Homo sapiens: one gene and its partners. The protein of the gene in region 4 interacts with the protein of the main gene of each other region in a pairwise test. Each region holds a gene or a part of one and is shown on either strand. Other genes may lie near its edges. The genes, in order: LEF1, ETV4, NFAT5, NFE2L2, EIF3J, TNNT1 and REL.

Region 1 (4,161 bases), on a different chromosome or scaffold from region 4:
TTGAGCGGGCTGGGGGCGGGGGTAGGGTGCACCTAACCCCGCGTAAAAGATTTGTGACTACTGTGTGCTGGGAAAAGGAGGTCAAAGGGAGGACACACGTCCAGAGAACCGAATAACATCCAAAACACAGGCTTTTTGCCAAACTCTCCTATTTGTAGAGCAGCCTCTCTTTCTACCCATTTTGCTAGTCCTGCCTTAGTCCATAAATAATTTTGCCACCCACTTCATATTCTCCACAATTTTCTGGTCCGGGTGAAGGACACTGCGTTCGAATCCGAGAGCACTCGGGTGTTAAGTGGGCATGAGGAGGCCTGAGGGTGAAGGAGTAATACCACTGATTTGCACGTGTTTGAGGCTGTCTGGGTGGATGGTGATTACCAAAACTGATATCAACTGGGCTACCTTTTAGATGTCTATAACCTGACTCTCTAATTTTCCTCCCTTTAACCACAGAATCGTTCTACTTTTGTAAGCCTGCACTCAGCCAGCCATAGTAGGTTATAAGCTCGAGTGGAGCTTCTGCTGTAACTGCGCTCAGGGCAGTTGCCTTAAGACCGCATCTGAGTGGTTGGCTTGTTTATGTTTAAATGCCATTTTCAGTTGCAAAATGATATTTCAGCCTTCTTTTAATCAGATCTGATTGAAGTGAACAGTGGTTGAAGAGGCTATCGAAACCATCAACCCCATTAACTCCTACTCCTGTAATATTAGGCATCCAAGGAGCCTTGATATGGTTTAATAAACAGCAGTCAGAACAGCATGTGGATCATTCCCAAATTTAACTATATTTTTATTGGTTTTGTTATTATTTATACGTTTTTGGTCCCGGGTGGATAATAATCACTCAAAAATACATGTTGACAAGAAAAGGATTATGCAGTACTAAACACTAGCGTATGTCTCTCAGAGTATAAAACAGAGTTGCCCCTAAACCTCTTCCTTTGAATTACCAGCGCACACACATTTGTACCATTATTGTCACAAACTCTAAGGTGATTTTCTTTCTTTTGGGTGTGGGGATTCATGATGTTAGGTGGCCAGACAAGCACAAACCTCTCAGGAGCCCTACCACGACAAGGCCAGAGAACACCCCGATGACGGTAAGACACCCATTCTACTTCTTCTGACTTTAGCAGATAAGGGGTGCAATTTGTATAAATAGGTGTGTTTTGTTACTTTTGAGTTCAAGAAACTGGGACTAGGTCAGACTATGCCCACTATTTTAATGGTAAAGAAAACGCAGGAAACTTATGGCTTACCTCTAATATATATTACATAATTTAAAAACTGTTTTTGAATGAGTTAGGGACCCTTGGATTTCAGGTGGGTTCCAGATTCTTTGGGAAGAGGGAATGTCTACAATGAGTTTTTCTCTTCCTCATCTTACCTTAAATCCTAATTAGCTTAGATCTTTAGTATTTTTAATATATTATTAAGAAGAACGACAGTATATATCGATTTATTTTCCAACCAGAATAGTTTTGAGTGGATTTTCACTTGCAAAATTGCTGTTTCTTGTTCCTTATTACAGTGAAAAGGCCGGCAGTAAATGAGCAGAGCAGAATCTAACTTGTAAAAATATAAAACTTATAATTAGGAATGTGCATATCAGAAATGATACCCTTTCTCCCTATTTCTGATTCTTGCTAAAAACTTTAAAATTACATACATATGTATTTAGACTTAAGGAGAATTCTTTGTGACTTTAAAAGAATCAAGTAACCTTAGGGATTTCTTGTCAGCCTATCTGTTTTCCATTAATTACTTAACAATTGGCCTAACTGAAATGAAGTGTTTTTACATACAATATGTCAACCAGGAGCAGGGAAGAGAATTATATATTAGGCTTCTTCCTCAGCTACAAGATAGTTACACAGATTAACAAGAAGAAATACACATATCGAACAGAAATTTTTTGGCAAAATGATCTAAGTGTAGCACATAAAATTAAGCCTCCCAGAGTTAATCCTTTATAAATTTAGATAGTTGCCTATATACTAGATAACAACTCTTTCAGTAGAATCTAGAAATTTTTCTAGAAATCTGCAAGCACAGGTAGAATCTTTGAGTTTGTCTACAAGGCAAAACATAATTTCAAGTGTATAAATCTCTGTGTTTGTGTGTAGCTAGATGGCCTAATATATTTATATTACATTTTTAAAGTTGTGTGTGTTCTGTATATTTTAGTCCAGTTTGTTAGTATTAGAACAAATTAAGTTAGATGGATAACACTTATTTTTGTAAAAACATCAGTCAGTAGTGGAAGAACTGTTTGAACTACATGTTTTTAAAACATCTGGTTTGCTGCTAAGCTATTTAAGAGAATAAATACTGTCAATCTAAAATAGAGCATAATAATCCAGTTACAGTATTTTGTAAACAAATCTTTTATGTAGGGTCTGATTTATCTTAGAACTATTAGATTTTCAGATGAAAAATACAGTAATATAAAAGGGAAGTCAGTGCATCATTGATTGTTCTTTGGATCTTCCCAGGAAAGCATCCAGATGGAGGCCTCTACAACAAGGGACCCTCCTACTCGAGTTATTCCGGGTACATAATGATGCCAAATATGAATAACGACCCATACATGTCAAATGGATCTCTTTCTCCACCCATCCCGAGAACAGTAAGTAACATGCTGATGTTGCAAATTATGTTCAGAAGTGCAAATTGATTTGTATTTTGGCAGAATGTTTATTTTTCCAAACTCATTGGTAATGCTTTCATTATATATAACTAGTCGTTGCTAAATAAGAGCTGTTATGAGGAATGGCCACCTTAAAACAGTGCTACCTTTGATGTCTTGCCTTTGAAATTTTAGCTTTTGGCTTATTGATTAAAATAAATATGTAACAGATCATAAGTTATAAAATCAAGTGAAGTTACATCAACAAATCCCTGATTTTATGAGTATTGTGCATTCTATGCTGATGAGAGGAAAAAATTGATTTACTTTTTCAGCTAAGTAAGGACTGTATAGCTTTTAATGCCCACAAGCTTTCTAGAATCAGAGCTACTTTAGCTCATTTGGAGCTGAATGTTTGTTATGTTACTTTGGCTTTTCAAATGGTGTCTTGTTTTATTGTATCGGCCAATGTTTCCTTAGGATCGGTTTGGCGGGGATGAGTTATTTTTGCTTTATTGTCAATTGTTGAGAAAGCATCACTCAAAGATAACCCTAATGAAAGTTGTTCCTTTTTTTTTTAATCTTGTGGTTTAGTTAACTTTTAAAATTCTAAAAATGCAGTGGTATTATAACTGCATTATGCAAATGCATAACATTATAAAGAATTTCAGGTTTATTTGATGATATTTCTCTTAGGAAGTGGAAACCTCATTTAAGTGAGAAAATACCTAAATGGTAACTTGTGTAGTATGTAGATGTAAAATGTGCTGGTGATGGAGTTCTCTCTTAGAATTAGCCCACCAGCGTTGGTGACGGACTTTTTACTGACCCATCAATATATTTACCTTCTCTCCAGCCCCACTCTCCCTTTATCACCTAACCCCCAATGAAAAACACATGTCTATGGGTCTCGGGGATTAGGGTTCCAGTCTCACTGACAGCCCTGGAGGTCAAATCTCAGATTGTAAAATGGAACCTATAGTGTTTGACTTACTTGCCCAGTGTTTCTACCAACTGAAAAAAATCAGTCACAAACATCTGGGAAGAGTAACGTTGTTAATACCTTAGTGAACAAAATCTGGGAGTGAGAAGATTCACTAGCAGAGAATAGTGGCTCAAAATCAACAGTTATCAACAAGAGTATTTGTGGTTATCATTACACATAATCTTCAGTTGTTGAAATGATACTTATATCAAATATGATCACTTTGAGCACTGCAATTTAGATGTTATTGTAATTATTTTCCAATAAATTGCTAAAGGATATTTGATCTCTCAGCTAAGGAATAAGCTTTTTCTAATTTTTATATAGTAGTTAAAGTGGAGATCTTGGGGTTCTAATCTTGAGGGAGATCTTGTGATGGTTGCTGTAAGAAATAGGTATTTCATATTTTATTTTAAGGCTTTTCAAGTATTTAATGATAAAGATGTCTGTGTGATGAGGATGAATCTCCTACTTAAAAAGTAATTTAAAAAAGCAAAAATAGTTTAATATTTAGAGGCCCCTCAAATAAATGCTTGAGTTTTAAAAG
Region 2 (4,161 bases), on a different chromosome or scaffold from region 4:
ACAATTCTTACAATGTGGACACCCCTGATCTAAAGGCTGTTGGTCCTTTCTTGGCTGTTGCTAATCTGCAGGGCTGTAATAATGGAGCCTCCCAGGGGACAACCAGGGCTCCGCCCCAAACTCACCTCTGACTTCTCTCTGCAGCTCAGGTACCAGACAGTGATGAGCAGTTTGTTCCTGATTTCCATTCAGAAAACCGTGAGTAGAGGTCCCTGGGGAGAGGGTATAGGGAGTGGAGGATGGCAGGAAGTGAGTCATAGGATAGAGAATCACAAGAGAGCAGCTTGTTCTCTCCTAAAACACAGTGGGGTTTGATCTTAAAGACCAAGGCAATAACTGGAATGAAAACCTTGGTTGAAATCTGGGGCTTGACATGTTCTTGCTGTGTGACCTTAGAGCAGACACTATCCCTCTGGTTCTCCATTGCCTTATATCTGAAGTGAGGGGCCTGGGCCAGTTCAGCAGAGTCCAGTTCTAGTGTTGTTTGTTTGTTTGTTTGTTTGTTTTCCCCCCAAGACAGAGTCTTGCTCTGTCACCCAGGCTGGAGTGCAGTGGCACAATCTCGGCTCACTGCAACTTCCGCCTCCCGGGTTTAAGCCATTCTCCTGCCTCAGCTTCCAGAGTAGCTGGGATTACAGGCATGCACAACCACACCCAGCTAATTTTTGTATTTTTAGTAGAGATGGGGTTTCACCATGTTGGCCAGGATGGTCTCGAATTCCTGACCTTGTGATCCGCCCACCTCGGCCTCCCATAGTGTTGGGACTACAGGCGTGAGCCCAGTGCGCCCGCCCCCAGTTCTAGTATTCTAAGTCACTTCCATAAACTGGGGACAATTTTGCCTCCCAAGAGACATTTGGTAATATCTGTAGACATTTTTGGTTGTCACAGTTGAGGGTGGGGTGCTACTGGTGTCTAGTGGATAGAGAGGCCAGGGATACTGCTAAAAGCATCCTATGATGCTCAGGACCGCTCCTTACAATATTATTAATAAAACACTATCTGGCCCACAGGTCAGTAGTGCCACTGTTGAGAAACCCTGCTTTAGGCTGGGTGTGGTGGCTCACGCCTGTAATCCCAGCACTTTGGGAGGCTGAGGCGCGTGGATCACATGAGGTCAGGAGTTTGAGACCAACCTGGCCAACATGATGAAATTCCGTCTTTACTAAAATACAAAAATTAGCCGGGCATGGTGGCGTGTACCTGTAATCCCAGCTACTCAGGAGGCTGAGGCATGAGAATCGCTTGAACCTGGGAGGCGGAGGTTGCAGTGAGGCAAGATTGAGCCACTGCACTCCAGCCTGGGTGACAGAGCGAGGCTCCATCTCAAAAAAAACAAAAACCAAAAAACAAACCCTGCTTTAATGTCAGATACTTTGCTGTCAACTGTCTTCACCAGTGAAACAATGGGGCACAAAGAATCAAAAACAGCAGAGAATAGTTGGTTACAAACGGCATTTGACTGGACTGCGGTTAAAACTGAATCTCACACCGGCTTGGAACCAACTCTTTGCTGCTCAGCCTCGTGGCCAGAGTTTGGGAACCCCGCAGGGGCCACAGGAAAGGCCAGTGTTCTTCACAGATAAGTAGGAGCATGTGTATAATGTTAGTCAGCTGACATTCAAGTGGGCCAATATCCAACCTCAACCAGAAAAAGAAAGATTCTTTTATTTATTTATTTAGAGACAGAGTTTCACTCTTGTTGCCCAGGCTGGAGTGCAATGGTGTGATCTCGGCTCACTGCAACCGCTGCCTCCCAGGTTCAAGCAATTCTCCTGCCTCAGCCTCCCGAGTAGCTGGGATTAAAGGGATGTGCCACCACGCCCGGCTAATTTTTTTGTATTTTAGTAGAGATGGGGTTTCTCTATGTTGGTCAGGCTGGTCTTGAACTTCTGACTTCAGGTGATCCGCCCGCCTCGGCCTCCCAAAGTGCTGGGATTACAGGCGTGAGCCACCGCGCCCGGCCAAGAAAGATTCTTTATATCCTCAAATAAGAAAACATGTCACTCCCCTGGAATTTTCCAGGGCACTCAGGAAAACTACAGGCCCTAGGTTGGAGGTGCTCACTCCTTGAAAGTGTTTTCTGGGGCCTGGGGTTGCATTAAATGTTTTTGTTTTTTGTTTCTTTTTGAGACGGAGTCTCGCTCTGTCACCCAGGCTGGAGTGCAGTGGCATGATCTCGGCTCACTGCAATCCCCGCCTCCTGGGTTCAAGCAATTCCCTTGCCCCAGCCTCCTGAGTAGCTGGGACTACAGGCATCCGCCACCATCCCCGGCTAATTTTTTTTTGTATTTTTAGTAGAGACAGGGTTTCACCATGTTGGCCAGGCTGGTCTTGGACTCCTGCCTCCCAAAGTGCTGGGATTACAGGTGTGAGCTACCGTGCCCAGCCTAAATGTTGAACTTTAGATGGTTTATTTAGTCAATAATCAGACACTAGTCTGATGTATAAACTAGACATAATGTAAATAGCCAAAATGTTCTTGTCTCACTGCGGGTCTCAGAAAATTGATACCCAGAGAGGGAAGGAGGCTGTACCAGTCACCCAGCTGGTCCTCAAAGCTCAGAAGGTATCAGAAGCCCTGCCTGCCTCTTGTGTGACAGGCTCTGGCCTTGCTCTGTCCCCTCCACCCCCACAGTAGCTTTCCACAGCCCCACCACCAGGATCAAGAAGGAGCCCCAGAGTCCCCGCACAGACCCGGCCCTGTCCTGCAGCAGGAAGCCGCCACTCCCCTACCACCATGGCGAGCAGTGCCTTTACTCCAGGTGAGCCCCAGCCTGGACCTGGTGAAGGGTAGGAGAAGGGTTCCAGAGGAGGGAGGCAGGGGGCACCCATGAGCAGAGGCAGCAGCTGAGATGCAAGTTAGACAACAGAAAGGATTTTCTAGCACTTGTAAGGAAGCAATACAGCTAAGGATTTCCTCTGAATAGACGGAAAACGCAGCAGAGGGCCTCAGGAATATATACTGAGGCCAGAGCAGATTCTGTTTCCACCAAGAGGCCCACTGTCCCACCTAAACCATTGCTCTGAGCAACAAATCCCCCCTGTATGAATCCCAGGGGTTCAAGACTAGCCTGGGCAACAGAGGGAGACTGTCTCTGAAAAAGAAAAGAATTGGCTAGGGCTGAGTCTGTGGCTCCTGCCGTTCCCTTCTCAGCCCCCTCTATCCTTCCTTCTCCTGTAATCCCTGTGACCTCGCTTTCCTAGGAATGAAGGGTTCAAAGATGCTTTCCAGCTTCTCTGCCCCCTCACCCCTGTCTCCTTCTCAACTCCAGTGCCTATGACCCCCCCAGACAAATCGCCATCAAGTCCCCTGCCCCTGGTGCCCTTGGACAGTCGCCCCTACAGCCCTTTCCCCGGGCAGAGCAACGGAATTTCCTGAGATCCTCTGGCACCTCCCAGCCCCACCCTGGCCATGGGTACCTCGGGGAACATAGGTAAGGAGACAGGGAAACCCACTGCTCATGGGCCCAGGTGTTTTTTCAATTCCTGAGTGTTCTCCATAAAGACTTGAGCTGTGGGGTGGTAGAGGCAGGGGGCAGTGGAATAGAAAGGGAGAAATACTGACACCCCAACCCCCTACCCCCCATTCCGGAGCCCACTCTAAAAGCCTAGGAGTAACAGGCTCGAGGAAGGATTAATTTAAAGTTCTCTTCTCTTCCTTCTCCATCCAACCACATCCAGCTCCGTCTTCCAGCAGCCCCTGGACATTTGCCACTCCTTCACATCTCAGGGAGGGGGCCGGGAACCCCTCCCAGCCCCCTACCAACACCAGCTGTCGGAGCCCTGCCCACCCTATCCCCAGCAGAGCTTTAAGCAAGAATACCATGATCCCCTGTATGAACAGGCGGGCCAGCCAGCCGTGGACCAGGGTGGGGTCAATGGGCACAGGTACCCAGGGGCGGGGGTGGTGATCAAACAGGAACAGACGGACTTCGCCTACGACTCAGGTAAGAGACTGGGGTGGGGCAGGGTGGCATGTGATCAAGTGTTCAGTTAAGCCCAGAATGTCTCCCGAGTTTTTTTACATTGCTGTTTACCATTTCATACATCCAACCCACCCACCCACTTTTTTTCTTCATAATTTCAAAAGAATGTTATTTTTCTTTCTTTTTCTTTTTTTTTTTGAAATGGGGTCCTGCTCTGGCCCAGGCTAGAGTG
Region 3 (4,161 bases), on a different chromosome or scaffold from region 4:
CTCCTGCCTCAGGGGACTACAGGTGCCCGCCCACCACGCCCAGCTAATTTTTTTGTATTTTTTTAGTAGAGACGGGGTTTCACCATGTTGGCCAGGATGATCTTGATCTCCTGACCTCGTGATCCGCCCACCTCGGCCTCCCAAAGTGCTGGGATTACAGGCGTGAGCCACCGAGCCCGGCCTCAAATGTTCTTACTGACTGTTAAGACAGTCAATATAATCTCACAGCTCTGGGGTAAAACTGGTGAAGTTCAAATTCCAGCCTCATCCACGAGATATGTGCCCTTGGGAAAATTAGTAGATCCCTCTGTACCTCAGTTTGTTCATTTACGAAATAGGGATACTGGTACTACATCGCAGGATTTTTCTAAGAGTTAAATGTGAAAAATATATGTAAAATGGTGTTAAACATAAACTGCTTGACATATAAATTGCTCAAAAAAGGTTTTCAATTATTACTAACACTGAATTTATTCTTTTGACTAGCATGTCCTACAAAGATTGCCTCAGGTACAGTTTTTTTTATTAAAACTAAATTTTTTTCTTCTCTTGCTTTATTTATTTATTTTATTATTATTATTTTTTAAGACAGGGTCTTGCTCTGTTGCCCAGGCTGGAGTGCAGTGGCATGATCCCATGATCATGCAGGCTCAATGCAGCCTTGACGTCCTGGGCTCAGATGATCCTCCCACCTCAGCCTCCTGTAAAACTAATTTTATAAAGATAAGCATAATCAGCCAGGCCCAATGGCTCACACCTGTAATCCCAGCACTTTGGGAGGCTGAGGCGGGCGGATCACCTGAGGTCAGGAATTCAAGACCAGCCTGACCAATAAGGTGAAACCCTGTCTCTACTAAAAACACAAAAATTAGCTGGGCATGGTGGTGTGCACCTGTAGTCCCAGCTACTCATGAGGCTGAGGCAGGAGAATTGCTTGAACCCAAGAGACGGAGGTTGCACTGAGCCCAGATCGCACCACTGCACTCTAGCCTAAGCAACAGAGAGACTCCGTCTCTAAATAAATAAATAAATAAATAAGCATAATCAACAACTTAGCTCACTATTAGAAACTTTTCTGTTCTTCTCTCATCTTCAAAACTAAATACCAAATTCAGTAAAAGACTAATCACAGTGTTTCCTGAATGAAAAAGAAGTGATAAACATTCATGGGTGGGAAGCAATAATGATCATTACCTATTTACCACATAAATGTTAAAAATAAAAGAGAATGGGCTGGGCACGGTGGCTCATGCCTGTAATCCCAGCAGTTTGGGAGGCTGAGGGAGGCAGATCACCCGAGGTCAGGAGTTCGAGACCATCCTGGCCAACATGGTGAAACCCCATCTCTACTAAAAAAATACAAAAAATTAGCTGGACATGGTGGTGCGTGCCTGTAATCCCAGCTACTTGGGAGGCTCTGGTGGGAGAATTGCTTGAACCTGGGTGACAGAGGTTGCAATAAGCCAAGATTGTGCCACTGCACTCCAGCCTGGGTGACAGAGCACGACTCCGTTTCAAAAACCAAAAAAAAAAAAGAGAAAAGTATATATTTTTCAAAAGCTATTAAGAACAAATAAAAGTAACTGAACTCTCATGTAACAAATGTTTAGTTCAAATGATTAAATATATATATCCTTTATTACATCAAGTTTATTTATTCTGAAAGCTAGATCCATTATCTGTAGTTAACTCATAGAGGAAATCTCTACCTTTTCACTCAAGTACATAATTATCATTGGTCTTATACTCTGTTAGTTTATTTAAACTTGACTTTTATTAACACAAAAGCAAACAGAAGACACAGCAACCTTCTTTGCGTAACTTGAAATAAAATCTTAGCAACAGCAAGAAAAGACAATAATACAAATTAATAAGCAACATTTCTATTGAAAAATGTCTTTTACCTCTCTAAAGTTAAAAGGTCTATATCCTATGCCACTGAATAATCTTTATTTTTTTCTAGTTACCTGTTACTCTTAATATAAAATATACTCTGAGGAGTCAACTTTTTCATATAAAAAGTGTCTGTTTTGGCCGGGCGCAGTGGCTCACGCCTGTAATCCCAGCACTTTGGGGGGCCGAGGTGGGTGGATCACCTGAGGTCACGAGTTCGAGACCAACCTGACCAACATGGAGAAACCCTATCTCTAATAAAAATACAGTATTAGCCAGGTGTGGTGGTGCGCCCTTGTAATCCCAGCTACTTGGGAGGCTGAGGCAGGGAAATCGCTTGAACCTGGAGGTGAAGTTGCGGTGAGCTGAGATTGCACCATTGCACTCCAGCCTGGGCAACAAGAGCGAAACTCTATCTCAAAAAAAAAAAAAAAAAAAAAGTGGCTGTTTTTTATATATAATACTAATCACACTGGGAAATGTTTTTCTGTACTACCACTTTGAAATTTTAGGGGACTCCTGGAATAATCAGAGTCAAGAGTAAATTAAAATCAGGCCAAGAACCACTGGATTAGAATATGAATTTATATCCTTTTATTTTAAATAAGCAATAGAATTCCAGTATTGAGTGAAAATAATGAAAGCAGAGTTTAGGAAGGGACACAAAAACAGGTGGTAAGCAATCAGAAAGAGATGGATCTAAAGACAAGAAGCTGGGATGAACTAGGTATGACTTTTGACATGTTTGAACTTCATTATTTCCATAATACTTTTAGTTTACTAGACATGGATCCACAGAGATTATTAGATACTAAACAAGAAAAGAATTCAATAGATTATTTTTCATGTTAAATGTTTTCAAAAAATCCTTTCCAAAAAGGTATCTTTGTACATAAAATATTATAGGCATTTATGATCTATGATATAACAAGGGCCCTAGGAAGAAATATAAATCAGAAATATTCTATAAAGTCAATAAAACATTGCTACTATGTTTAGGATTTTCCATTTTTGCACTATGAAGTATAATTCTGGATGGTACCATATCAAATAGATTAGCAGTAGTAAAAAAAAAATCATAGTTTATTTTCTCTTAACTCATTGTCATATTTCACATTTTCTTTTAAAAATCTTCCGGTCTTAAATGTTTAATTTAAACAAAGATTGTGGCCGGATGCGGTGGCACATGCCCGTAATCCTAGCACTTTTGGGAAGCCATGGAGGGTGGATCATGAGGTCAAGGGATCGAGGCCACCCTGGCCAACATGGTGAAACCCTGTCTCTACTAAAAATACAAAAATTAGCTGGGTGTGGTGGCACGCGCCTGTAGTCCCAGCTACTCAGGAGGCTGAGGCAGGACAATCACTTAAACCCAGGAGGCAGAGGTTGCAGTGAGCTGAGATCATGCCACTGCACTCCAGCCTGGCAACAGAGTGAGACTCTGTATCAAAAATAAATAAATAAATAAATAAATAACAAAGATTATATCAGATCAGCATTTAGCTCTTATTTAACCAGTTCTTTCATTTGATATATAATCTCTTAACTCATGCTTTTAAAATCATTAAAATTGTTAAATCTATTGTTTATATTTATCTATTTTTCCAATTTGTTTATACTCTTATTTTTCCTGTTTTATCTATGATTTTTCTATAATCTTATATTTCTCTATTTCTAGAATGATTCATTCAGTTTCATTTCTATCTTAGTTTTTCATTTGCCAAAATGAATAGTTTTCATTATAGAATGTACAACAAATGGTGCCTTTTCTCTGCAGCTGAATTTTTTTCCCAGGCACTTCAAAAAGGAATCCTAGCCTTCGAATTTGAACTTACTAATGGCAAACAATTTTATTTAAAAAAAATATATAAACCATGTTCTTTAAAGATGGAAAATACAAAAATAGAATTGAAAAATAGAAAATCAGTGATGTATACTTTTGTTCAGGATTTTTGTAACACAAGTTACTTTGAATATAATTGTAACAGCATAATTTTTATTTACTTATTTTATTAAGAGTGTCACATGTTAATTATGGGGTTACCAGAAACATCATTTAATGGCCATGTATTATAACATTAATTAATTAGCCAGGACCCTTTTCCCATTGTCAGGCAATCATCGTATTAAATTTAAAAAGAGGTTGCAAGAAAGACTAGCACTGTTTTGATAGGAAGGTTAAATGCAAACTCAGTTGAATAGTAGACATTTTGAATCTACTTCTAAAGTTTAATAATACCCAAGCGCAGGCCAGGTGCGGTGGCTCAC
Region 4 (4,161 bases):
TCCCACCTCAGCCTCCCAAGTAGCTGGGACTACAGGCACATGCCACCAAGCCCAGCTAATTACTTTTTGTAGAGATGGCGTCTTGCCATTTTGCCCAGGCTGGTCTTGAATTCCCGGGCTCCATTGATTTTCCTGCCTCAGCTTCCCAAAGTGCTAGGATTACAGGCATGAACCACTCCACTGTGCTTGGCCTTTTTCCAAATATTTTTGAACCAATCTGCCATTGGTTGCATCATGGAACCAGAGGCTGCATGGGCCGACTGTATATACACTTGGCTTTGGAATCTTGGTAGTATGAAGCGGCCAGTCTGCAGGTCAGATTAAGTCTGTAGGTCACCTAGATCAGTTTCCTGGCCAAGAGCAACAAAATAGCAACCACAGAGCATTCAGTCGACTATACATGGCTATCTTCTCAGGGGGATTCCCACTAAAATAGGTATGAGAATAATTTCTATTTTAAAAAATGATTTGTTTCCATTCTGATGGACATGTTTACCCAAAGGTTATCATGGGAGACAGAAAATTCAAAGGTATAGAGAAACCTACTTTATTTTATTTTTTTTTGAGACGGAGTCTCGCTCTGTCGCCCAGGCTGGAGTGCAGTGGCACAATCTCAGCTCACTGCAACTTCCGCCTCCAGGGTTCAAGCAGTTCTCTCACCTCAGCCTCCTGAATAGCTGGGATTACAGGTGCGTGCCACCATGCCCGGCTAATTTTTCTATTTTTAGTAGAGACAGGATTTCGCCATGTTGGCCAGGCTGGTCTCGAACCCCTGACCTCAAGTGATCTGCCTGCCTCGGCCTCCCAAAGTGCTGGGATTACAGGTGTGAGCCACCACGCCCAGCTGAGAAACCTACTTTAAAATTCTGATTAGCTTGGGCCGCTTCTTCTCAGTAAATCTAGATACATAGCAGGGTATCCTGTCTAGACTTTCTGCAAACTGGAGCTATCTGCCCAAGCAAGGTATTAAGTGTTCAATATGTTCCCATCTTCTAGGTACTAGCACCAAAAATGAAAGGAATGCATGATCCTGCGATCTTAATTGAACTCTGTAAAATAGGCAGTCCATGTTCCCACCCATCTCAAGAAGTGATGTGCAAAGTGTGCAAAGCTCTTTGCAAAGTCAATCAAAGAAACTCAAATACTTGTCCCTGTACGTGGGGAAAAGTGTACTTTGACACATCCCTGCCTCACCCTAGACTTCCTGGGCCTGAGGTTTTTTCTTGTTAAGGAGATCCCAGGATAAAAATCAGTAAAAGGTTGTGACTTTTTCATGCAACTGAAGCAATTTAGGTTGCAAACATCTTCTGCTCATAAATCTGACTTGCAAAGTATCCTTACAACCAACCCTCATGAGCTGGAAGAAAATATTGAATGGAATTTATAATTGTCAGTGTCAATCATGCCAAGAATTGAAATAACTATTTAATTTCCTTTCCCCCCCTTTTCCTTCCCATCAGATGATAATATTTGAGGGGTTTGGATGGCTTTAGCTATACATTGTTTAATTATTCCATCCTACCCAAGCATACAGATGTTAGTGGATCAAATGAGGCACGTGAAAAGTATCTCTCTATAAATGTAAAATATGCAAATGTTTACATGTTGACAGTGATAGGCTCTACTACTTGCTGTATAAGCGAGACCAAAGTCCAGGCCAATGGATAATAATGAGGTTGTGGACCTAACTAGGGGGAGCCTAAAATAATGTTGGGACTACCTAGATGGTCAGAAAGAATGAGCCAATTAACTTCTAAAATCATGGACAGCTTCATTGCTTGGTTCTTCCTCAGGGCAGGTCTGAATTAGACTACTATTAACATGTTGTAATAAAAAAGGATTTTGATCTCAGAGATTCTGAATTATTTACAAATAATAAAGCAAATTAATAAGCAAATTAGAAGTTTTAGTGGATATTGCTCTTGATGGTGGTTTTGTTACTGTTGGTGGGGGTAATGGTGATGGCAGTGGGCACGCCCATATACATTTGCATACACTCTAATATAAATGTTTACAAACATACACACACACACATTCAATTGCCACTCAATTCCTGCTGTGAGTACCCTTCAATGGACAGCTCCAAACCAATTCAATGTTTTTTATTTGAATTTCCCTTGACATGACCAGAAAAAGACATCTTTATGAATCCTTATCAACAAACAGGAAAAATAAGACATGAAGCATTATTTAGACTAGCTCTTGAGCATCCTGTTCACGTTACCTGAAACAATGCTGGACCCTGGGAGACTAAGCAGCTCCTGCGGCCCTAGCTTACTGTCTCCACCAAGAATGCCACCAAATGACATCTAATTGCTCTTCATTAGGCTGGGGGACATTCAGTGCAATCGTAATAGGACCAAAATAGGTTTCAAAGTGTTCTGAAAGGTTTTCCTGTGTATTTTTAAGTTTATATTTATGTGGCCAGGCATGGTGGCTCACGCCTATAATCTTAGCACTTTGGGAGGCCGAGGCGGGCAGATCGCTTGTGCTCAGGAGTTCGAGACCAGCCTGGGCAACATGGTGAAACCCTGTCTCTACTAAAAATACAAAAATTAGCCGGGCGTGGTGGCATGTGCCTGTAGTCCCAGCTACGTGGGGGACTAAGGTGGGAGGACTGCTTGAGCCCAGGAGGTCGAGGCTGCAGTGAGCCAAGATCGTGCCACTGCACTCCAGCCTGGGTAACAAAGTGAGACCTTGTCTCAAAAAAAAGTTTATGTAATGTTTTTTCTTGCTATGAGAGGTCTCAAAACAAAACAAAACAAAACTGCTTCATAAAAGAAAAAAGCTAAATTTGAAGCAACTATTTTGGATTCCCAAAAACAGACATCTTGATCAAATTTAGAATGCAGCAACAATAGGTTTATTGTTATGGCCTTAATGTCATACTCTGTGCTACTCAGATTTTCACATCTGTTTCAGCAGGCAAAATCCTGCAGAGATTTGATACTGTATGAAACATTCAAAGCTTTATGTTAAAAAAAAAAAAAAAAAAACAGCAGAAGTTAACTGAAGACTCACTGTTGGGGACCACAAGCTCACTACTGTATTTTGTGCTAAGCTAATATGCACCAACCATTTCCTGTAAGGAGCCGTGTGACTGGGCACATGATTTATTCCACAAATGACCCAGCTCTCTGCAAGGCTCACACATCATCTAAGAGGAAATAATCGTCTGGGTGGAGCCCATAACAAACAAGAACATGACACTGGACAGGAGGAAAGGGAAGTGCCTAAGGAAGAACTAAAACTGCTCTTCTGCACAGAAATCCAGGGCTTTGAGGAAGTGCAAGTCCCCCATGGAGGAAGGCCACAGTACAAAGTGTTAGATAAGTAGGGTTTGGGTAGAGAGAGGAAAGCAGGTAGATGGGTTGCACAGCACTGCACAGATACTTTCTTACAACGGGTGAGAAAGCTTCCCAAGGGCCATGCGAGCACTGGCCAGGAGCCTTTGCATGGCATATGGAGCAAATGCCGTCTGCCACTTGGTGTCTGAATTTTTTTTGCTCTTGTCCTTTAGTGATTCCTGAGTGTGTTCCAAATTATGTTGCTAGCTTGGCTTAGACAAAAGAAGACAATTTGATAAGAAACACAAATGTTGGACAATTCATGTTAAATCACCATCTGGCCTAACAGAAATATTCATGTTTAAAAAATATATATCATCATTTGCCAACTGGGTAATCTGTTACACATTTTAGGGAAATCTGAAGTTGGACAATTAACTCATACCACTTTAAAACAAACATCTTTGTACCAGGATAAACAAAGAAGAAAGGACTTGAACACAGAATCCATATTAAATATGTCTTTTGCAAGTCAATTTTAGTGCCTTGAATAAACCAGCATCTATCATGCTTAGATGATCCAAAATATTGGAAAAGATAAAGCAAAGATAATACAATCCCTGTCCTAAATTAAAGCTATTCAGTAAACTGAGACAAAGTATTTGAAATGAAAAGTAATCTTTTAGACACTCAAATGTCTAATTAAGGCTTGCACCTCCCATTCCCCCGAGTCTCCCTTCCCTCTCCTACCCTCTATCTTGCCCTGAGAATGACAGGAAGGTGGTGGGAGATTTCCTTCTAAAAATAAATTTCATCAATAAACTGTTAAAAAAAATTAATTATACACACTACTAACTCTCAACAGAAAGCGAAA
Region 5 (4,161 bases), on a different chromosome or scaffold from region 4:
ATAACTAGACAGTCTTTGCACTCGAGAGATTCCACAACATGTAATGCAATAATGGAAAGGTTTACCTTCTTTAGCTTCAAAGTTGGAGGGTTTTGGTCATTTTAATTTTATATCAAACTAGTGCTTTTCAGCCGCAGTATCTTCACTCTGAGATAAGCAGTCTTCTTCACAATGTATTTTTAATATCCTCATGTTCAATTTTAAGACAAAGCAATTTTAATACTAGGTGCACACCACATGCCCTTGCTGCAAACTGCTTTTCTTGACAAGTTATGAAGTAGTTCAAGGAGGTATGGTTAAGGCTGTATTACTGAATGGTGCTGGTAAATACTACACAATTTTTTTTGTCACGTTGCAACCTTTTGTTTCCAATTTAGTGACTGCTGCTATGAAATCAGATAGCAACAACGACAACATTATTAGGTTTTGAACTATGATTTAGTAGCAACTTAGGTTCCCAATTTTAACCCCTTGGCAGCAAGATCCAAGTTCCCTCATTTGCACATTAGCACCTAAGTGTCAAGGGGTTAAATAACCAGCACAAAAGATACTGCACTTCTGATTGTAGCATTTGGCAGAACTGAAAGGAAAGGAAGTTGTGCTACATGTTCAAGGGATTGTGGGCAACATAAAGATGACACCAAGAAAAGATAAAATGTCACATGAAGTCTTCATAGTCTTGTACATATCCTCCATCATAACCACCATAATCTGCCAGATCATCTTTCATGGTGGCTTTTAATCCCCCTCCAGGAACCACACCTTTCTTCTTCTTTTTGGCTTTGCTTTGCTAAAGATGAAAGAGAGTTAATTCATGAACCTTAGTGTGCTATGGGCATCTTATCTGGTACAGCAACCCTCATAAACAAACACACAAAAACCTTTGGTCCCAGAAACACTAGTTCTGTAAGGGACATCCGAGCCTACATGTTTTGGACCTGAACAGGTCTCCCAGAGTCAGTCTCTCCAAAACTTGATCTGGGTCCTTGGTCCTGCTCTGGATACCTAGCCCACCAGCAGGGGTTATAAGTTATTGGTAGACAGCCTTAACTTCACTGAAGCAAATTTAGAAAAGTGTGGATAAGTACCCCCCAATTTAAAATCACAAAGCTCTAACCTTTACTTGACATACTTCTCTTACTTTACTCTTATAAATACTCTGCAAAGTGAGTATTATTGTTCCTATTTTAGAAGGGAGAAGACTGAAGCTTAGAAAAGCTGATTTACCTATACCTATTAAGTAGCAGTGCTAGTATTTGAACCCAGTCTGTGATTTCAGCAATTTCTATTAACTCAGAAAAGGGGAACATGTCTGGAAACAAAAGGACAGTAATAGCACCCATACTCCTCTTCTAGTCTAACTTAAATGGTATTAGTGAGTTGCTTGACTTTTAATTAGGACAGGCTCCTATTATATTTGTTGACTGTTAGACCTATAACCCCACTCTAATTTAATACCCATTTCCCTACACAGCTTGCTCTTACCTTTTCTTGCTTCTGTTTTTCACTGCAAAGCACAGTCAGTGAATTGGTAATTTTTTTCAAGTCATCAATTTCCACTTAAAAAAAAAAGGGCATACCATTAAACTTGAATTTTTAAGCATTTTGAAAAGTTAAAGCTAAATATGTACATTCCATATATATCTATATATCCCAAAATGTACATTCCAAAAGTGTTATGAGAAATCCAATTTGTTCATTGTTAAACTTCAGTAACTTTGAAAGGACCATGAATTTCTCCTCTTTAAACGTAAGGTGGCCGGGCACAGTGGCACATGCCTGTAATCCCAGCATTTTGGGAGGCCTAGGTGGGTGGATCACTTAAGCCCAGGAATTCGAGACCAGCTTGGGCAACACAGCTAGACCCTGTCTCTTGAAAACAAAATTCATTTTATTTATAATGACGACCTGTAATCACCAACACACCATTGCTCAACCAAAGAGAAACTGTCTTTATAGCTCACAATGCTCCCTACTATCCTTCCTCAGTCTAAACAAATGGGGGAGGATAACATGCCCTTCCATTAACACACCCCCAGTAATCAGGGAGAACAGACAAATAAACATGAAATGACAATTACTATTATTTTTTTTTTTTTTTGAGATGGAGTCTCACTCTGTCACCCAGGTTGGAGTGCAGTGACGCGATCTCGGCTCACTGCAACCTGCGCCTCCCGGGTTCACACCATTTTCCTGCCTCAGCCTCCCGAGTAGCTGGGACTACAGGCGCCCGCCACCATGCCCAGCTAATTTTTTGTATTTTTAGTAGAGACGGGGTTTCACTGTGTTAGCCAGGATGCTCTTGATCTCCTGACGTGATCCGCCTGCCTCGGCCTCCCAAAGTGCTGGGGTTACAGGTGTGAGCCACCGCACCCGGCCTATTTTATTTTTTTTTTTGAGACAGAGTCTCGCTTTGTCACCAGGCTGGGGTACAGTGGCGTGATCTCGGCTCACCACAGCCTCCACCTCCCAGATTCAAGTGATTGTCCTGCCTCAGCCTCCCGAGTAGCTGGGATTACAGGTGCGTGCCACCATGCCCAGCTGATTTTTGTGTTTTTTTTTTTTTTTTTTAATAGAGATGAGGTTTTACCATGTTGGCAAGGTTAGTCTCAAACTCCTGACCTCAGGTGATCTACCAGCCTCAGCCTCCCAAAGTGCTGGGATTACAGGCATGAGCCACCACGCCCGGCCAGAATGACAATTCTTAAACCTACAATGACAACACCCTATCCCATGATGTCTCCATTTTCTTGCACGGGAACTACAATGAGAACAGTGACCATCTCTATGTCCTACCAAGAAATAGTCCTGTTCAGTGGACAGCATTATCAGCCTTATAAAAATATGAAGCTGGAAAGAGACACCAGTTTTTAGCTACCAGAAAGTGTTCAGTTTTGGTTAGAGAACACCTCCAAAAACCAGAAAAAAATTAGTACATGCAGAATAAAATATCAACTCTGGGCACATTACCAATCAAATGTAGAACCCTCAGCTTAGTGATAATTTATCAAAGAAAACCCAATTCATTGTGTAGGATTCCTTTTTCTCCATCTTAAAAACTGCAAATAGGCTGGGCGTGGTGGCTCACACCTATAATCCCAGTACTTTGGGAGGCCAAGGCAGGGAGATCACCTGAGATCAGGAGTTCCAGAGCAGCCTGGCCAACATGGTGAAACCCCGTCTCTACTAAAAATACAAAAAATTAGCCGGGCGTGGTGGCAGGCGCCTGTAATCCCAGCTACTCAGGAGTCTGAGCAGGAGAATTGCTTTTTTTTTTTTGAGACGGAGTCTCACTTGGTCACCCAGGCTGGAGTGCGGTGGCACGATCTCAGCTCACTGCAAGCTTTGCCTCCCAGGTTCATGCCATTCTCCTGCCTCAGCTTCACCTTGTTAGCCAGGATGGTCTACAATCTCCTGACCTCGTGATCCGCCTGTTTTGGCCTCCCAAAGTGCTGGGATTACAGGCATGAGCCACTGCGCCAGACCAGGAGAATTGCTTTAACCCAGGAGGCAGAAGTTGCAGTGAGCTGAGATCGTGCCTCTGCAATGCAAGACTCCATCACAAAAACAACAACAACAAAAAAACTGCAAATACTAGCAAAACCAGTCCCTTCCATACATTCCTGCTTCACCACCCATGGCTGTCACTCCCATTCACCCTGCCCTGAAATGTATGACTCCTATCAAGGTGTGGCACCACAACCACGGACCCAGAGAATAGGTGCCAGCCCTGTCACTCAACTTGCACCCTGTCTAATTCTGATTTGTAAAAGACAGTGGCTGAAGTCTCACCCAACCCAAATCCTACAGTGCCAGAGACCTTTTCCCTCAAAAGATACTTCCCAGCCCCTCTCAAGTGATAATCAGATAAAAAGAATAGGCCAGTGTTTTATTAGCTGCTTTGCTGACAAGCCCAGGTATCTCTTAGGGAAGCCATTGTAAAACAAGAAGTCCTCTTACCCCTACAAACAAACAAAAAGATCCAGCACTCAAATTCACTGTATCTGCAGAACAACATTCACAAGGTAATTGCTAAAAACAGCAAATCATGAGTCTGTATTATAGTATCCTTGAAAATAAAAAATAACCTTCAACCTCCTGAAGAGAACATCCTACTAAAAATCTACCCAGAGGGGCTAGAAATTAGAATTACTTACATGA
Region 6 (4,161 bases), on a different chromosome or scaffold from region 4:
AATCTGCATTGTTTTTCTGCCACTAAATTTGCAAATTACAGCAGTGATAGGAAACTAAGTTTAGGCGCGATGGCTGACGCCTGTAATCCCAGCACTTTGGGAGACCGAGACAAGTGGATCACCTGAGGCCAGGAGTTTGAGACCAGCCTGGCCAACATGGTGAAACCCTGTTTGTACTAAAAATACAAAAATTAGCTGGTAATGGTGGCACATGTCTGTAATCCCAGTTACTTGGGAGGCCGAGGCAGGAGAATCACTTGAACCCAGGAGGTGGGGGTTGCAGTGAACAGAGCAGAGATTGCACCACTGCACTCCAGCCTGAGTGACAGAGCGAGACTCCATCTCAAAAACAGAAAGGAAACTAATTCAGGTACGGAGTGCTGGGTGTACAAAAAGCCTCATGTCCACCATAAGGAGACGGGGCTCAGCCTGGACAAACCACTGTTTCTGGAACATTCAATGAAGAGTTTCTCGAATGTCGTAATGCCTTCGCTCAATATTCCAGAACCCCTTCCTCAGGCTCAAGGCCATCAGCCTCTTTAATCTCCCCAGTCCCTGGTCTTATCACCAGTTACTTCCCTTGACCCCCTCAAAACAGACATTCTCATATCCTGAGACTAAGGGCGACTGTGGCCCAGACAGGCTGAGCATCTGGAGTGAGGTCGTACAGCAGAGTTCACTATCGGCTATTTCAGGGTGGAGACATGCAGAAAAAGCAGGCATTTCTTCTTCTCCTTCATTTCGATTTTTTCTGGGAGGATATTAAGACCCAGAGAAGGGGGCCAGGTGCGGTGGCTCACGCCTGTAATCCCAGCACTCCGGGAGGCCGAGGCAGGCGGATCACTTGAGGTCAGTAGTTTGAGACCAGCCTGGCCAACATGGTGAAACCGCGTCTCCACTAAAAATACAAAAATTAGTTGGGCGCGGTGGCGGGTGCCTGTAATCCCAGCTACTCAGGAGGCTGAGGCTGGAGAATTGCTTAAACCCGGGAGGCGGAGGTTGCAGTGAGCCAAGATCGCACCACTGCACTCCAGCCTGAGCAACAGAGCGAGAGTCCGTCTCAAAAAAAAAAAAAAACAGAGGGGAAGGGACTTGTAGGTGGTCACACGGGGAGACGTGGCAGGGCCGGGAGTGGGTACCCCTGCGTTTCTGCTGGTTCTGATGTCCCAGCAGCCTCTGCGGCACTGGGTCTGCTGATCCCTGTGCCCCAGTTCCACATCCCAGGGCCCTCCTCCCTCAGTCCTACAGGGGAGTCCATGAGGTTAACCCCTTACTTCCCACAGGAGGAGAAGATGAGGAAGGAAGAGGAAGAGGCCAAGAAGCGGGCAGAGGATGATGCCAAGAAAAAGAAGGTGCTGTCCAACATGGGGGCCCATTTTGGCGGCTACCTGGTCAAGGTGAGTCAGCCTGCAGGAGCCTGAGGTCTGAGTTCTGAGGGGGCAGGGGCTGGGGGCCAGACCTCTGGTTCCTAACGGAGGAGGGGCTGAGGCCTGGATTCCTGGGTCTGAGGGAGGAGGGGCTGGGCCCTGAACTCCTGGGTCTGAGGGAGGAGGAGCTGGGGTCTGGACGCCTGGGTCTGAGGGAGGAGGGGCTGGGGTCCTGGACTCCTGGGCTGAGGGAGGAGGGGCTGAGGGCCTGGACGCCTGGGTCTGAGGGAGGAGGGGCTGGGGGCCAGACTTCTGGTTCCTAATGCGAGAGGGTCTGGGGCTTGGACTCAGTCTGAGAGGAGGGGCTGGGGGCCTGGACTCCTGGGTCTGAGGGAGGAGGGGCTGGGGGCCTGCACTCCTGGGTCTGAGGGAGGAGGGGCTCGGGGCCTGCAATCCTGGGTCTGAGGGAGGAGGGGCTGGGGTCTGGACTCCTGGGCTGAGGGAGGAGGGGCTGGGGGCCAGACTTCTGGTTCCTAATGCGAGAGGGTCTGGGGCTTGGACTCAGTCTAAGAGAAGGGACTGGGGGTCTGGACTCCTCCTGAATCTGAGGGAGGAGGGAGTGGGGCTGGACTCCTAGGTCTGAAGGAGATGGGCCTGGGGTGCAGACCTGTGGTCCCAACATGGAAATGGTCTGTGGGATCCGACGTGTGGGTCCCGACACGGCAGTGCTCTGTGGGATGTGGCCCCCAGTTTACTGTTCCGCCTCCCCCACCCTCAGGCAGAACAGAAGCGTGGTAAGCGGCAGACGGGGCGGGAGATGAAGGTGCGCATCCTCTCCGAGCGTAAGAAGCCTCTGGACATTGACTACATGGGGGAGGAACAGCTCCGGTAGGTGCTGTGGGGGGCTCGGGGTGTAGGGGCCTGGGTGTGAGACAGGGGGATAAAGGAGCTCACACCCAGATCTGGGTGGGCAGATACTCCGGGTCTCAGCTCCAGTGCTATGTGACTTTGGGCAAGTGGCTTCCCCTCTCTGGGCCTCTGCTGCCTTCTTTGTGAAACATGTCACTGAACCCACTTTTCGTGGCTGCCGTGGCCTGTAGCATCTGACAGGTGTTACCAAGGAAGCCAGACAAGATGACTTCCCTCCCCCAAGTTTAGGAGATTTTGTTAACTCCGTGATGTGCCTTGGAGCTCAGGATGGGCTGTGCCTTTTACCTAAATTCAAGCCAGGAATGCGGGTGAGAATTTTCCAGCTGAGTCCCTCGCATCTATAGCCAAGACAGCCTGCCTCTCATGATAAGCTACAGGACGGCAGGCTGGTGGGGGCTTGCCTTCAGGAGCCCGCCTGTTTCTCCATGTTCTCTGGCCTGGGCTGTGGCTCAGAAACTTCAACCACCCCAGAGTGGCGCCGTGATCGGGTTTGCCGCTTGCACCGAAAGCCCCTGCCCAGGGCTCAGTGCCAGCTTTGCCGGCTACTTTGTGATCTTGCGCACGTTATCTGACTTCTCTGGGGCTCCCATTCCTCATTGGCAGAACAAGGATATAATCACAAAATTGACCTCACAGAGCTGTGAAAGGGCAGTGAGATAGTAATAATAATTACAGGCTGGGCCCGGTGGCTCATGCCTGTAATTCCAGCACTTTGGGAGGCTAAGATGGGAGGATTGCTTGAGGCCAGGAGTTGGAGACCAGCCTGGGCAATGTAGTGAGACCCCATCCTTAAAAAAATAATAATTACAGCAGCAGCTTCCTGTGGAGGGTTTACAACCCTGTGAGGTAGATACTATTATTATCCTTGTGTTAATAGTGAGGAACCTGAGGCACAGAGAGGTTAAGTAACCCTTCCAGGGTTGCACAGCTAGCAAGTGGAAGAGCTGGGATTTGAACCCGGCAGTCTGGTGCAATAGTCCGTACTCTTTGCTAGTGTGCTGTAAAGTGGCTTCATGGTAAATGTTTAACAGCTGCTCTCCAGGGGGCAAAATGTCTAGATTTAGCACATGCCCATTCCCAGGGCGTAAATACTTCCACCTTGCTCCTTTCAAACTACCCGTGTGGGGACACTGAGTGTGGAGACGGGAAAGGATGTGCACAGCAGGCTCCTGGAAGCCCTCTGGGGGGCGCTGTGGGCCCTCCTTCCTGTGCACATGGTTCATGTAAAGTATTGTTGGCCGGGCGGGCGCGGCGGCTCACACCTGTAATCCCAGCACTTTGGGAGGCTGAGGCGGGCAGATCACCTGAGGTCAGGAGACCAGCCTGACCAATATGATGAAATCCCATCTCTACTAAAAATACAAAAATTAGCCGGGCGTGGTGGCAGGCGCCTGTAATCCCAGCTACTCTGGAGGCTGAGGCAGGAGAATCACTGAACCCAGGAGGCGGAGGTTGCGGTGAGCCGAGATGGCACCACTGCACTCCAGCCTGGGCGACATGAGCGAAACTCTGTCTTAAAAAAAAAAAAAAAAAAAGGCTGAGGTGAGAGGATCACTAGAGCCTGAGAGGTTGAGACTGCGGTGAGCTGTGATGGTGTCACTGCACTCCAGCCTGGGTGACAAAGTGAGACCCTATCAAAAAAAAAAGAAAAGAAAGAAAAGAAGGAAGGAAGGAAGGAAGGAAAGGTAGGTTTTAGTCCAGGGCTGGTATGGCAATTCTACAAAATCAGAGACCAGACTCCTATGTTTTCTGCTTCACTCACTACTTTTAGCCCAATATTTCCATCCTCAAAATCACTTAGTCCAATATAGCTGCTAGCTCCAGCCTCACATGGATGATCCAAGCAGCAGAAAGAAGACGCAAG
Region 7 (3,430 bases), about 120 Mb from region 4:
TGTAAGCAGAATTAAGGTTCTGCTACCTCTGTGTGTAGAATATTCCCAATGGATTTTTCATTTTTCAGGTGCTATTTTTTGACCCTGTATAGACTTTAATTTAAAATGAATTTGGTAACGTTTCTCCTCTGTCTCTACATATATTCATGCTTTCACCTGCTCTTTTAACACCTGCTTTTAGTATCTGAGGCACTTTTTCTGAACTCTACTTGTGCACTGGATCCCTCCTCCTTTCTCTGCCAGGCTGTGTTTACTTTATCCTTACATCACCACTTAGTGATTCCTTTCTTTGTATAAACATGGTAAATGTCTTCATTAGCCTAAAAGGAAAGACCAAATAAAACCTTTCCTACCACTTGGATGCATTTGCATCCTGACTTCTGAAATGCCTCCAGCCTCCATTTTCTCCCTTCCCAGTTATTCCTTAGCCCAGCCATCTCTGTCTTTAGCTCCTACAATTTTCTTAGGATATTCTGGGAAAGATGAGCGGAGACTGCCCGCCTTGTCAAATCTAGTGTCTTTTTTTCAGTCCTCACACTGCTTGACCTATGTATAACCTCCTATACTTCCCTCTTTGCATACTCCTCTGGGTTTTCTGTGGTAGTCAAGATTCCTCCCTGAGATTTATTTCCCATGAGTCTTGACCCCTCCCCTCAGTTGGTGCTATTTCCCCCTACCCGCCCTCCGATGATCTTATCAGAGCCCACAGGTTCAGTTTTCTTTCATGCTACCTGAATGTCCTGATAAACTGGCTCGCTCTCTTCTTTACCTTCCATAATGGCATTACCATTTACCACGCCACCCAAGATACTTACTAGGAACCTCAAAGTATTGTATTCTTTTTCTCCATCACACTCATACTTAATCATCAAGTCCTTTTGAGCTTGTCTCCTCTTGAATATGTCCCTTCTTAATTCCTGCTGCCTTCTTAGTAAAGGCCTTCATTCTTTTTTCCCTAGTAATAATCTTTTCCATATGTTCCAGTTAAAATACCATGTTCTCCCTATTCCTTATTACATAGCTAGCATTCCTTGAAAAAAAACAATTCTCTCAGGCCTCCATACCTTTAGCATGTTACCCACTCTGCCTCTGCTCTTCTGGAACTAGAACACTCATCCTTGAAGGCTGGGCTTCTGTATGAAGGTTGGTCCTGCCTCCTTACTTGAGGTGAAGCTTTGTACATGCCTGTATTACGGACATCCTCTTATTTAAGTGTTTGTCTCTTTCGTCATTGGGACTCCAGCACCCAGCATAGTCCCTAGTATACTAGTTGGTGCTGAATAAATAGTAGCTATTATTAGAAAAGGAAGGGTGAAATTGACATGGGAGTTAGTAAAATGTATATGGAAATGATTTTTAAAGGGAAAGGTAATGATTTTCTGGCAGGAAAAGCAGCAATGACAAGATTACTTAAGTCTTGTGAAATAACACTTCTCTTCCTTGACCTGCTGCTTCCCTTTTTTACCACACACACACGCACACATACCACAGCCCTTTGAGACTGAAAGCAGCTCTATTGAGAATAGTAGTGTCAACTGTATTATGTAGAAATTCTAAAGTTTTTGGGATTATTTCATAGCCCTGACCTTGCTACTTCTCTCCACTTTATGTGGCAGGTTTAATCTCAGGTCTCCCTCATACACTTCTCAGCCTCAGCACCTAACCCTCACACAACACTCCAGTATTGATGCAGTCAATCTTGTATAACATTTTTTGAATGTCCAATGTGCAAAGCACGATGTTGGAAATTATACAGAGGTGAATAAGACAAAAACTCTTGCTCTCAAAGATGTCAGTCTTTTTCTTTGCAAGGATAACACATGTAGAGTAAAATGCATAAAGGGGACTAATTTTAAATGTACAGCTTAATTAATTTTTATGTATGTTAACACCCATGTCACCACCATGTTTAGGACATTTCCAGCACCCCTGAAATTTCCTTCATGCCCCTTCCCAGTCTGTACCTACACCTCTAAATCTATTTTCAATCTTAATGGCCTTTTAAATAACTGGGCTTCTCACAACCATAGTGAACAGAAACAGCTGGGTTGTCAACGTCTAACCTAATACTTCAGGAAAACTCATGATGGTTTCCATGTTAAGAGAGACATGGAGCAGGGCACTGGCATGGTGGATGGATCACGCCTGTAATCCCAGCACTTTGGGAGGCCGAGGTAGGGGGATTGCTTGAGCCCAGGAGTTCAAGACTAGCCTGGGTAATATAAGGAAAACCTGTCTCTGCAAAAAAAAAAAAAAAAAGAGGATACAACCAAATGGAAGAACATTCCATGCTCATGGGTAGGAAGAATCAATATCGTGAAAATGGCCATACTGCCCAAGGTAATTTACAGATTCAGTGCCATCCCCATCAAGCTACCAATGCCTTTCTTCACAGAATTGGAAAAAACTACTTTAAAGTTCATATGGAACCAAAAAAGAGCCCATATCGCCAAGTCAATCCTAAGCCAAAAGAACAAAGCTGGAGGCATCACACTACCTGACTTCAAACTATACTACAAGGCTACAGTAACCAAAACAGCATGGTACTGGTACCAAAACAGAGATATAGATCACTGGAACAGAACAGAGCCCTCAGAAATAACGCCGCATATCTACAACTATCTGATCTTTGACAAACCTGAGAAAAACAAGCAATGGGGAAAGGATTCCCTATTTAATAAATGGTGCTGGGAAAACTGGCTAGCCATATGTAGAAAGCTGAAACTGGATCCCTTCCTTACACCTTATACAAAAATCAATTCAAGATGGATTAAAGACTTAAACGTTAGACCTAAAACCATAAAAACCCTAGAAGAAAACCTAGGCATTACCATTCAGGACATAGGCATGGGCAAGGACTTCATGTCTAAAACACCAAAAGCAATGGCAACAAAAGCCAAAATTGACAAATGGGATCTAATTAAACTAAAGAGCTGCTGCACAGCAAAAGAAACTACCATCAGAGTGAACAGGCAACCTACAAAATGGGAGAAAATTTTCGCAACCTACTTATCTGACAAAGGGCTAATATCCAGAATCTACAATGAACTCAAACAAATTTACAAGAAAAAAACAACCCCATCAAAAAGTGGGCGAAGGACATGAACAGACACTTCTCAAAAGAAGACATTTATGCAGCCAAAAAACACATGAAAAAATGCTCATCATGACTGGCCATCAGAGAAATGCAAATCAAAACCACAATGAGATACCATCTCACACCAGTTAGAATGGCAATCATTAAAAAGTCAGGAGACAACAGGTGCTGGAGAGGATGTGGAGAAATAGGAACACTTTTACACTGTTGGTGGGACTGTAAACTAGTTCAACCATTGTGGAAGTCAGTGTGGCGATTCCTCAGGGATGTAGAACTGGAAATACCGTTTGACCCAGCCATCCCATTACTGGGTATATACCCAAAGGACTATAA

Evidence for each region.
Region 1: the proteins of NFE2L2 (region 4) and LEF1 interact in binary tests that used the Homo sapiens proteins (3 or more experiments, as listed by UniProt).
Region 2: the proteins of NFE2L2 (region 4) and ETV4 interact in binary tests that used the Homo sapiens proteins (3 or more experiments, as listed by UniProt).
Region 3: the proteins of NFE2L2 (region 4) and NFAT5 interact in binary tests that used the Homo sapiens proteins (3 or more experiments, as listed by UniProt).
Region 5: the proteins of NFE2L2 (region 4) and EIF3J interact in binary tests that used the Homo sapiens proteins (3 or more experiments, as listed by UniProt).
Region 6: the proteins of NFE2L2 (region 4) and TNNT1 interact in binary tests that used the Homo sapiens proteins (3 or more experiments, as listed by UniProt).
Region 7: the proteins of NFE2L2 (region 4) and REL interact in binary tests that used the Homo sapiens proteins (3 or more experiments, as listed by UniProt).

What each region holds. Positions count from the first base shown.
Region 1 is NC_000004.12:108,162,036-108,166,196, reverse strand, and holds part of LEF1 (lymphoid enhancer-binding factor 1), read left to right. Parts: intron 1-1,033; coding exon 1,034-1,100; intron 1,101-2,495; coding exon 2,496-2,629; intron 2,630-4,161. UniProt on the Homo sapiens protein: Transcription factor that binds DNA in a sequence-specific manner. Participates in the Wnt signaling pathway. Activates transcription of target genes in the presence of CTNNB1 and EP300.
Region 2 is NC_000017.11:43,532,463-43,536,623, reverse strand, and holds part of ETV4 (ETS translocation variant 4), read left to right. Parts: exon of another isoform or gene 1-144; coding exon 145-198; coding exon of another isoform or gene 199-212; intron 213-2,638; coding exon 2,639-2,765; intron 2,766-3,275; coding exon 3,276-3,437; intron 3,438-3,684; coding exon 3,685-3,950; intron 3,951-4,161.
Region 3 is NC_000016.10:69,572,042-69,576,202, reverse strand, and holds part of NFAT5 (nuclear factor of activated T-cells 5), read right to left. Parts: intron 1-4,161. UniProt on the Homo sapiens protein: Transcription factor involved, among others, in the transcriptional regulation of osmoprotective and inflammatory genes. Binds the DNA consensus sequence 5'-[ACT][AG]TGGAAA[CAT]A[TA][ATC][CA][ATG][GT][GAC][CG][CT]-3'.
Region 4 is NC_000002.12:177,236,973-177,241,133, forward strand, and holds part of NFE2L2 (nuclear factor erythroid 2-related factor 2), read right to left. Parts: intron 1-4,161.
Region 5 is NC_000015.10:44,557,647-44,561,807, reverse strand, and holds part of EIF3J (eukaryotic translation initiation factor 3 subunit J), read right to left. Parts: coding exon 4,158-4,161; intron 1,560-4,157; coding exon 1,486-1,559; intron 791-1,485; coding exon 659-790; 3' UTR 1-658. UniProt on the Homo sapiens protein: Component of the eukaryotic translation initiation factor 3 (eIF-3) complex, which is required for several steps in the initiation of protein synthesis.
Region 6 is NC_000019.10:55,135,197-55,139,357, reverse strand, and holds part of TNNT1 (troponin T, slow skeletal muscle), read left to right. Parts: intron 1-1,283; coding exon 1,284-1,397; intron 1,398-2,145; coding exon 2,146-2,255; intron 2,256-4,161. UniProt on the Homo sapiens protein: Troponin T is the tropomyosin-binding subunit of troponin, the thin filament regulatory complex which confers calcium-sensitivity to striated muscle actomyosin ATPase activity.
Region 7 is NC_000002.12:60,925,913-60,929,342, forward strand, and holds part of REL (proto-oncogene c-Rel), read left to right. Parts: 3' UTR 1-3,430. UniProt on the Homo sapiens protein: Proto-oncogene that may play a role in differentiation and lymphopoiesis.